Regions from separate parts of the Homo sapiens genome. Here region 2 is linked to region 1. The links come from fine-mapping of genetic effects on gene expression. Tissue or cell type: whole blood. Region 1 holds a variant in brackets; the other region holds the start of a gene. Each region is shown on its reference strand, or each on the opposite one. Region 1 overlaps NLRC5 (NLR family CARD domain containing 5). Region 2 holds the start of HMGN4 (high mobility group nucleosomal binding domain 4).

Region 1 (4,369 bases):
CCCAGGGCCCTGCTCCAGGGGCTGTTCCTATTGGTCACTTAGCTTAGCTGTAGGAGGACCCTGCTTGACTTCTTAAAATTCTTTCCTGAGTCCTCTTTCCTTTCTCCCTCCCTTCCTTTCTGGGTCCCCTTCCTTCTTGTTTTCCTTCTTCCTTTCTCAAACTCTTCCAGAAAGGCATTAAAGTGATTGTTGAAAATCCATACAATGAGACAAGACTCCAGAAACTATTAAGGGAAGTGAGGAAATGTGGGTGATAAGAAATCGGGATGATAAAACCCTAACAGAGGAGGGAGGTTGCAGGCCTGGCCAAACTCACTGGGAACTTCACTTATATGACCACCGGCGGCTTCCATAGAGCTTGGTCCTTCCCTGATGGACAGATGGCCATTTAGTGCTTGGAGCTGAGTGTTTCTGGGGGCTGCTGGCTGTTGGCCCTGCTTCCTGCATCCTGGACTGCAAGACTGCCAGGCCCAGAACATCCACCTTCCAATGGGGGTGCCTAGAAGTCCACTCTGCAAATAGAAGCTGGTGTTGACCCAGCCTCTGCCTGCTGCCTGCCTTTCCAGTCCCTGCATGTGGGTGTACTTGGCTGCCTGCCACCTGTCTGTGGACTGGAGTTCCCCAAAGGTTCTGGGTAACCCCTCAGCCCAGATCCCCAGACCCCACTCCTCCACCCCTTCCTTTGCTTTTTCAGGCCTGAAGCGCCCACATCAGAGCTGTGGGTCCTCACCCCGCCGGAAGCAGTGCAAGAAGCAGCAGCTAGGTGGGTACCAGTGTGGGGAGGAACATAAACAGAGAGATGGGGTTGCCTGGGGGCCAAGACCCGGACCCTGGACCTTGTCCCCTGCCAATAAGCCTCCAGAGGCCCAGTGACTCTTGTCTCGCAAGTTTCCAGGAGAAAAGGACTGGAGGTCTTGCACAGGCAGAGGAGAGGCCTGGGCTGGCAGCGAAGGGGCTCCCCACCCATCTGGCTGCATGGGGACTTCTCTGAAGAGGGCTCCGCTGAAGGAGCTGGAAGCACCATACAGGTCTCAGCTTCGCTGTCCAGGCTTTTCCAGGGACACCCTATGTCCTCAGTGTTGAAGGAGACCCAGGGAGGAGACCAGTTTGGGGGTGAGCAGGGATGGGGAGGGGTGAGGAGGCCTGGGAGAAACCTTCAAGACAGAGGCCCTGGGGGCCCATGGGGAGACATGGAGCTGCTTAGGGCAGGCCAGGCCAGTGAGAGAAGAAAGGGGACTTCTCTCATTCTTGACCAGTTCTCAGAATGGTCCTCGTTCTCCACGAGTTGTCCCACTAACTAGAGCCTTCTCTGCCCCCACTGCTGCCAACCATGGCTATAACCAGAGGATTCACATCCGCTCAAAATAGTTCACTACCTTGGCCTTTCCCCATAGGGTTCCCCCAAAAGCAGCCCCAGCCCTTTCCCTGGGTCACCTGAGACCTCTCAATGACCCAGGAATTAAAAGGTTAACATCTGGCACTGTAGGGGCCCAGCTCCCACAGTTCCGATCGGTAATGCCTAGGCCTACAGGTTGTTAGTGCTCACCCCTGGGCATTGCAGAACTGAAATATTGGGAAGAGGCACTGGGGATCCAGATATTACAGAAAGAGGTTGTTTCAATAAGATATTGCAAAGTAGCTGGGCGCGGTGGCTCACACCTGTAATCCCAGCACTTTGGAGGGCTGAGGCAGGTGGATCAGTTGAGCCCAGGAATTCAATACTAGCCTGGCCAACGTGACAAAACCTTGTCTCTACTAAAAATACAAAAATTAGCTGGGTGTGGTGGTGTGCACCTGTAGTCCCAGCTACTCAGGAGGCTGAGGCAGGAGGATCACTTGAGACCAGGAGTTTGCGGCTACAGTAAGCTAGGATCGTGCCACTGCACTGGAGCCTGGGCAAGACTGAGACTCTGTCTCTGGGAAAAAAGAAAAAAAAGAGATGTTGCAAAGGAGGTGCCCTATTCCCCTCCC[C/T]CCATCTTACTGAACCCTTACACCACGTGTACTATTGCAGAATGGATAGAACCGTGACCCACACTTCCCCATTCCCACCTGCCTGTTTAAATAGCTACCGGAGAGCCTATGCTCCCTTAGAACTGATTCCTTCTGGAAGTTGGGGTGGCACAGATCCCCCTATGGTGCTCTTGACACCCCCACCCTCACCCCATCATACATACACATCTGGGGCTACAGGCTCCCAACAGCCCAATACTGGGGCAAGAAGACATGAGCAGAGGGCCGGGGGGTCCTCTCCTCATGCCATGTCCCTGCCCCTTGCAGAGTTGGCCAAGAAGTACCTGCAGCTCCTGCGGACCTCTGCCCAGCAGCGCTACAGGAGCCAAATCCCTGGGTCAGGGCAGCCCCACGCCTTCCACCAGGTCTATGTCCCTCCAATCCTGCGCCGGGCCACAGCATCCTTAGACACTCCGGAGGGGGCCATTATGGGGGACGTCAAGGTGGAAGATGGTGCTGACGTGAGCATCTCGGACCTCTTCAACACCAGGGTTAACAAGGGCCCGAGGGTGACCGTGCTTTTGGGGAAGGCTGGCATGGGCAAGACCACGCTGGCCCACCGGCTCTGCCAGAAGTGGGCAGAGGGCCATCTGAACTGTTTCCAGGCCCTGTTCCTTTTTGAATTCCGCCAGCTCAACTTGATCACGAGGTTCCTGACACCGTCCGAGCTCCTTTTTGATCTGTACCTGAGCCCTGAATCGGACCACGACACTGTCTTCCAGTACCTGGAGAAGAACGCTGACCAAGTCCTGCTGATCTTTGATGGGCTAGATGAGGCCCTCCAGCCTATGGGTCCTGATGGCCCAGGCCCAGTCCTCACCCTTTTCTCCCATCTCTGCAATGGGACCCTCCTGCCTGGCTGCCGGGTGATGGCTACCTCCCGTCCAGGGAAGCTGCCTGCCTGCCTGCCTGCAGAGGCAGCCATGGTCCACATGTTGGGCTTTGATGGGCCACGGGTGGAAGAATATGTGAATCACTTCTTCAGCGCCCAGCCATCGCGGGAGGGGGCCCTGGTGGAGTTACAGACAAATGGACGTCTCCGAAGCCTGTGTGCGGTGCCCGCACTGTGCCAAGTCGCCTGTCTCTGCCTCCACCATCTGCTTCCTGACCACGCCCCAGGCCAGTCTGTGGCCCTCCTGCCCAACATGACTCAGCTCTATATGCAGATGGTGCTCGCCCTCAGCCCCCCTGGGCACTTGCCCACCTCGTCCCTACTGGACCTGGGGGAGGTGGCCCTGAGGGGCCTGGAGACAGGGAAGGTTATCTTCTATGCAAAAGATATTGCTCCACCCTTGATAGCTTTTGGGGCCACTCACAGCCTGCTGACTTCCTTCTGCGTCTGCACAGGCCCTGGGCACCAGCAGACAGGCTATGCTTTCACCCACCTCAGCCTGCAGGAGTTTCTTGCTGCCCTGCACCTGATGGCCAGCCCCAAGGTGAACAAAGACACACTTACCCAGTATGTTACCCTCCATTCCCGCTGGGTACAGCGGACCAAAGCTAGACTGGGCCTCTCAGACCACCTCCCCACCTTCCTGGCGGGCCTGGCATCCTGCACCTGCCGCCCCTTCCTTAGCCACCTGGCGCAGGGCAATGAGGACTGTGTGGGTGCCAAGCAGGCTGCTGTAGTGCAGGTGTTGAAGAAGTTGGCCACCCGCAAGCTCACAGGGCCAAAGGTTGTAGAGCTGTGTCACTGTGTGGATGAGACACAGGAGCCTGAGCTGGCCAGTCTCACCGCACAAAGCCTCCCCTATCAACTGCCCTTCCACAATTTCCCACTGACCTGCACCGACCTGGCCACCCTGACCAACATCCTAGAGCACAGGGAGGCCCCCATCCACCTGGATTTTGATGGCTGTCCCCTGGAGCCCCACTGCCCTGAGGCTCTGGTAGGCTGTGGGCAGATAGAGAATCTCAGGTGAGTAAGAGTGGAGGAGGACCGGGGAGGGGATTGGGCTTTTGGGGGAGCAGAGGCCAACCAGTCTAGCAAACCTCTGCCAAGAGGACTGGATAAGAATCTTGAATATCAGAACATAATGGCCTGCAATGCAAGAGAGGAAGCTCCATACCTTGACAGGACCTCTGGAGTCCAAATGGATCCTCCTCTTGTCTGTGGTTTCTGGACTCTCAGTCTCTCTGTCAATCATGGGCTGAAACCACAGATCCAGGCTGTCTATAGAGGCTGGTGGACTTTGGGCAAGTATATGGAGCACACACATGCACACTGTCTAGGCCAGAGTTTCTTCGTTCCTAAAACGAATCTGTAACAATAGCCAACTCATATGGTCATTGCAAGAATGAGATGGGATGGTGCATGAAAAACATTTTGTAGCACAGTGCCTAGCACAGAGCAAAGGCT
Region 2 (4,340 bases), not on the chromosome of region 1:
AAAAAAAAAAAAAAAGTTTTGGTAACCTATTTTAACATAATTAGTTTTCTTTTGAAATCTTACATATTTATCTTTTCTTTCGTGTATTTAAAAGTATTATTCTGAGATAGAGTCCAGAATCACCAAGCTGCCCTTGGGGTCCATAGTACAAAACCTAACGAGAAGATCCCTATGCTATTGCCTAGGGAGTAATCCATAACCTAGGTCTACCTTAATATTTATGCAGAAAGAGCAGAATATTTTTTGTAACGGCTGTTGAAACCTTATGAACTGAAAACAAATATTTTCTAATCTCAAAGTGTATATTCTCAATATCAGGCAGTTTTACTTCTGTTTAGTAGACCTCATCTTATTTAAAATGCTCACCAGGCATGGGGATGATTTATTCTCAGAAATATGGACAAACTAAAACACACACATATGAGACGTTTGTTTGCTTTCAAAGTGAAAAAGTGAACATTCATATGAGTGTCCGGGTTGATGATGCTCCTTATAAAGCTGTCAAATTCTGAGATCAAGGCCCTGCAGTAGAAGCAGCATGCAGTGAGGAGGCCTAGCACAGTTTCGCTTAGTAAAATATTTGAAGAAAAAAAAAAAAAGACCCACAGAGAGACAAATGAAAACTCAGACCACGTCACCGTACAACGGCTTCCAGTTTCCTACAGAATACCAGCCAGAGTCCTTACAAGAGCCTGTAAAGCTGGCCAGAGTCCTTACAAGGGCCTATAAAGCTGGAGGTGGTCTCCCAGGATCTCCTATTCCTCTCCACTGAGCACCGGCCTCCTCAACATAACTCCCAAGCCTGCTTCCACCTCCAGGCCTTTTCCCTAGCGATTTTTCCCTGTTCCAGATCACTCATTTCCCCGATATCAGCATTTATCCCTCATTCATCACTTTCACTGCTGGCCTTTCCTATCCTCTTTCCCTGTTTTATTATTATTTTTCTCCAATCGCTTATCACTATTATTTTGTTTATTTAATGCTTTATTATCCGCTTCCGCCACTGCCATGTAATCTTGAGGGCAAGGGTCTCTCATGTTTTCTTCACCGTTATCTGCAGTGCCTTGAACACTAATACTGGTTGAATGAACGAACGCATTAATGGAGCGGTGATATTGGGGCAGAGAGGATGCAGGGCTTGCTTTTCACCGCCATTTTTCAGCCGGCAGAGACAGACCGAGAAAGGAATGAAGGCCACGGGGCGTGTGCAGAAGTAGCTACCAGAGAGTCCATGCGCTGCGAGCCTGGACCAGCGGGCAAACGCGGCTTACAGGCGTTCACCCAGATATTACGGGTACAACCTAGTTTCTTATGAAATACCTCGCCCCTAAGGTACGCGCAGGGCCAGTGGCGCAATGGATAACGCGTCTGACTACGGATCAGAAGATTCCAGGTTCGACTCCTGGCTGGCTCGGTGTAAGCAGGGTCGTTTTACAACTTTCTGACTCCGCAGGAGTAAGGAAATTCCTGCAAGATAAATTTGCCTGGAAGACTCAGAAGCAAGAGGGGCAGCTCCCGACAACATATGGGGTTATCATTTCTTTGCGGAGCATTCTGCCACTGACCACGTGGTAACGCCAACTACGCCAGAGAAACGCTCGCCCTACCCAAGTTGTGCCCAGCCTTGCCTGGCCATTTTGGCCGAAGAACGAAGGACCGTTCAGAGATTAAATTAAAGTCTCTATTGTGTTCTTCCCTATTCAGTCATTTGTAGAATAAATTCTATGGCTTCAGTTTGAACACTGGAGGGGCTGGGTCTGAGCTTTTCATTGGTTTTTCTGGTTTGAGAGGTCGGTACAGAGACGCACGCGCACATCAGCAAAACACGCACTTGGAACGAAGAAACACGGAACTAGGCAGGAAGAACTATTTACTCTGAAAAATAAGCCCTTAGTGGGTTTCCGTAGTGTAGTGGTTATCACGTTCGCCTCACACGCGAAAGGTCCCCGGTTCGAAACCGGGCGGAAACACGTTTTTTTTTCCTCATCTTACTACGAAATTCTTCCAGTGTGTATCTTTTAAAGACTTTTTCAGGCTGTCATAAATTTCCTGTCTTCTTGTCTTGCTAGATCGGGGCAGCAGTGCTTAGGGCGGGCCTCAGAGGCTCACACACGTATCGCCAGGGGGAGAACCAGCTCTCTCCGGCTTGGACTCGGGGCGGCTCCCCGCCTGCAGCCCCGGAAGCGCATCCTCACCTTCCCTCGCCTTCCTGTTCCTGGCGGAGCCGGGCTCCGCTCGTCTTCTCTGTCTTAGGGCTGGTGCTGGCCCTGCCCACGCCTAGGGCTCCGGCGCGTCACGGGCCTCAGCTGGGATTCCCGCGCCCCTCGGACGGCCACGAGACTCGGGTAAGTGCCTCACAGACTTTGTGCGCTACCCCGGAAAATGAGGGGCGTGGTGGGGGGGGTCCCGCCGCCCTCCGTATACTTAGGACCCTCCTGCCAGCTGGCCCCGGTCATGATTAGGGGCCTTGGGCCCCGTCAGCCCCGCCTGTCTTCCCGTCTCCAGAGTAATCGCAGCATCTCTCCTGAGCTCCGAGTGTGAATCCCTGGGAAAAGCTGAATCCAGAGGTGGGGTCACAGAGAGCCGCAGGCCCGACCGGGATGAGAAGTCCTAATCGGCGTTCTAGGGGCGTTCTAAAAGAAGGAAGGAAGGGGATTTGAAAGGATTGCTCCCGCAGGGCTGTGGCCTTAAAGAGGTGGTGACTGGCAGGTTGGACTGACCTGCCGTGGGCTCTCCCTTCCTCCCCAATTTACCTTCGAGAAACCCTCGTTGAGGAGACACCCAAGGGCTGAGTCCTCCTCCACTTTGACCTTTTGCTATTCCATCACAAAGAAAAAATGGATCCCAAAGTTAAGAAATGGACCAGCACTTGTTTAGAATCAGGACTGGTGCCTTGGTGTTTGGCCTCTTACCTCTGCCACATGGCTTGCTTACAAGTTAATCGGATTAATCAAACGCTTTTATGAGAAAGTTTTGTTGTGTCACCTGGCAGCCTCGGGTGTTCCCTAAGAGGGATTTCTTTCTTAGATGTATTACTACTTTTTCTAGGGATTAGCCAAGCCTAGCCTCTCAGATCATATTGCTCCAGGTTCCCTCAAATGACTAATAAGAATGTGATGTGTTTGTTTTTGTTTGTTTGTTTTTGAGACGGAGTCTCACTCTGTTGTCCAGGCTGGGGTGCAATGGTGCGATCTCGCTCACTGCAACCTCCACCTCGATTCTTGTGCCTCAGGCTCCCGAGCAGCTGGGACTACAGGTGTGTAACACTACACCCGGATAATTTTTGTATTTTTAGTTGGAGACGGAGTTTCACCATATTGGCCAGGCTGGTCTCAAACTCCTGACCTCAAGTGATCCGCCCGCCTCGGCCTCCCAAAGTGCTGAGATTACAGGCATGAGCCACCGCGCCCAACCGAATGTGATATTTTTATGACCATGAGAAAAGAAGGGCTGCATTCTTTGGTGGGTCCGCAAAATTAAAAAAAAAAAAAAAAAAAGAAAAGAAAAGAAAGAAAAGGACAATGTTAATGAGCTGTTTTCTTTTTATCATTTTCTTAAACAGGCTGCTTGGGTAGACGTTGACTTGAAAGGTCCATTCTTTTGTCATCTTGCTGGTTCCCTTAACAAGACAACACCTTGGCTAGCAAGATAATATCTTGGTTAGCAAGACAATAAACTTGGGCATGTGCTCAACAGCAACCTGTCTAATACATTTTCATTTAAAATCCCCTCTGTACTACTCAGAAATATAAGCAAGTTATTATGGTGCCCAGAAAGGGGGCAAAGGTTCCAGGGTCCTAGGAGATGACAAGGATTTATCCTCTTCATCTTTCTCCGATCCCAGTTAGCAGGAATACTTTAGCCTGGAAGGTGAGTGTGCCCCTAACCAACCTTTACAGATGGGTGACTGTTTGGGAGCTTATGGCTCACTCCTTCTCTTTAAAGCAGATGCATTCTGGCAAGCTGCAGCAGCAAACCTACCCTTTTAGACACCCTGCGTTTTCTCATCTTTCCTTTCTACCCCTGCATCTCCCAGTCTCTCTCACTTAACCTCCGTGGAAACTCATGCTGCGTCTCTAATACTTTGGAAGATGAAGAACAAACGCCCTGGAGAGTGACTGACACCATGTGACCTCTTGCTTCTGTAGCACACTGCATCTTGCCTGTGAATCTTTTTTTTTTTTTCTTTTTTTTTTGAGACCGGGTCTTGCTCTGTCACCCAGGCTGGAGTGCAGTGGCACAATCTTGGCTCACTGCAACCTCCGCCTCCCAGGCTCAAGTGATTCTCCTGCCTCAGCTTCCCAAGTAGTTGGGACTATAGGCATATGCCACCACACCCA

Evidence for each region.
Region 2: HMGN4 starts here. The variant in region 1 is fine-mapped to the expression of HMGN4 in whole blood (TOPMed, PIP above 0.99).

What each region holds. Positions count from the first base shown.
Region 1 is chr16:57,023,091-57,027,459 of GRCh38, forward strand. NLRC5 (NLR family CARD domain containing 5) reads left to right here. Exons shown (of 49, transcript NM_001384950.1): 5 at 695-763; 6 at 2,278-3,928. Among named protein-coding and RNA genes, the nearest start is that of NLRC5, 36 kb to the left of the region's middle. RefSeq lists an enhancer at 3,361-3,879. The variant C/T (reference allele first, on the strand shown) is at 1,972.
Region 2 is chr6:26,536,157-26,540,496 of GRCh38, forward strand. HMGN4 (high mobility group nucleosomal binding domain 4) reads left to right here and starts at 2,210. Exons shown (of 2, transcript NM_006353.3): 1 at 2,210-2,345. It overlaps TRR-ACG1-2 (tRNA-Arg (anticodon ACG) 1-2), which reads left to right and starts at 1,342; the gene lies at 1,342-1,414. It overlaps TRV-CAC1-6 (tRNA-Val (anticodon CAC) 1-6), which reads left to right and starts at 1,898; the gene lies at 1,898-1,970. RefSeq lists enhancers at 1-406, 496-1,160, 2,421-2,830 and silencers at 1,194-1,487, 1,881-1,930.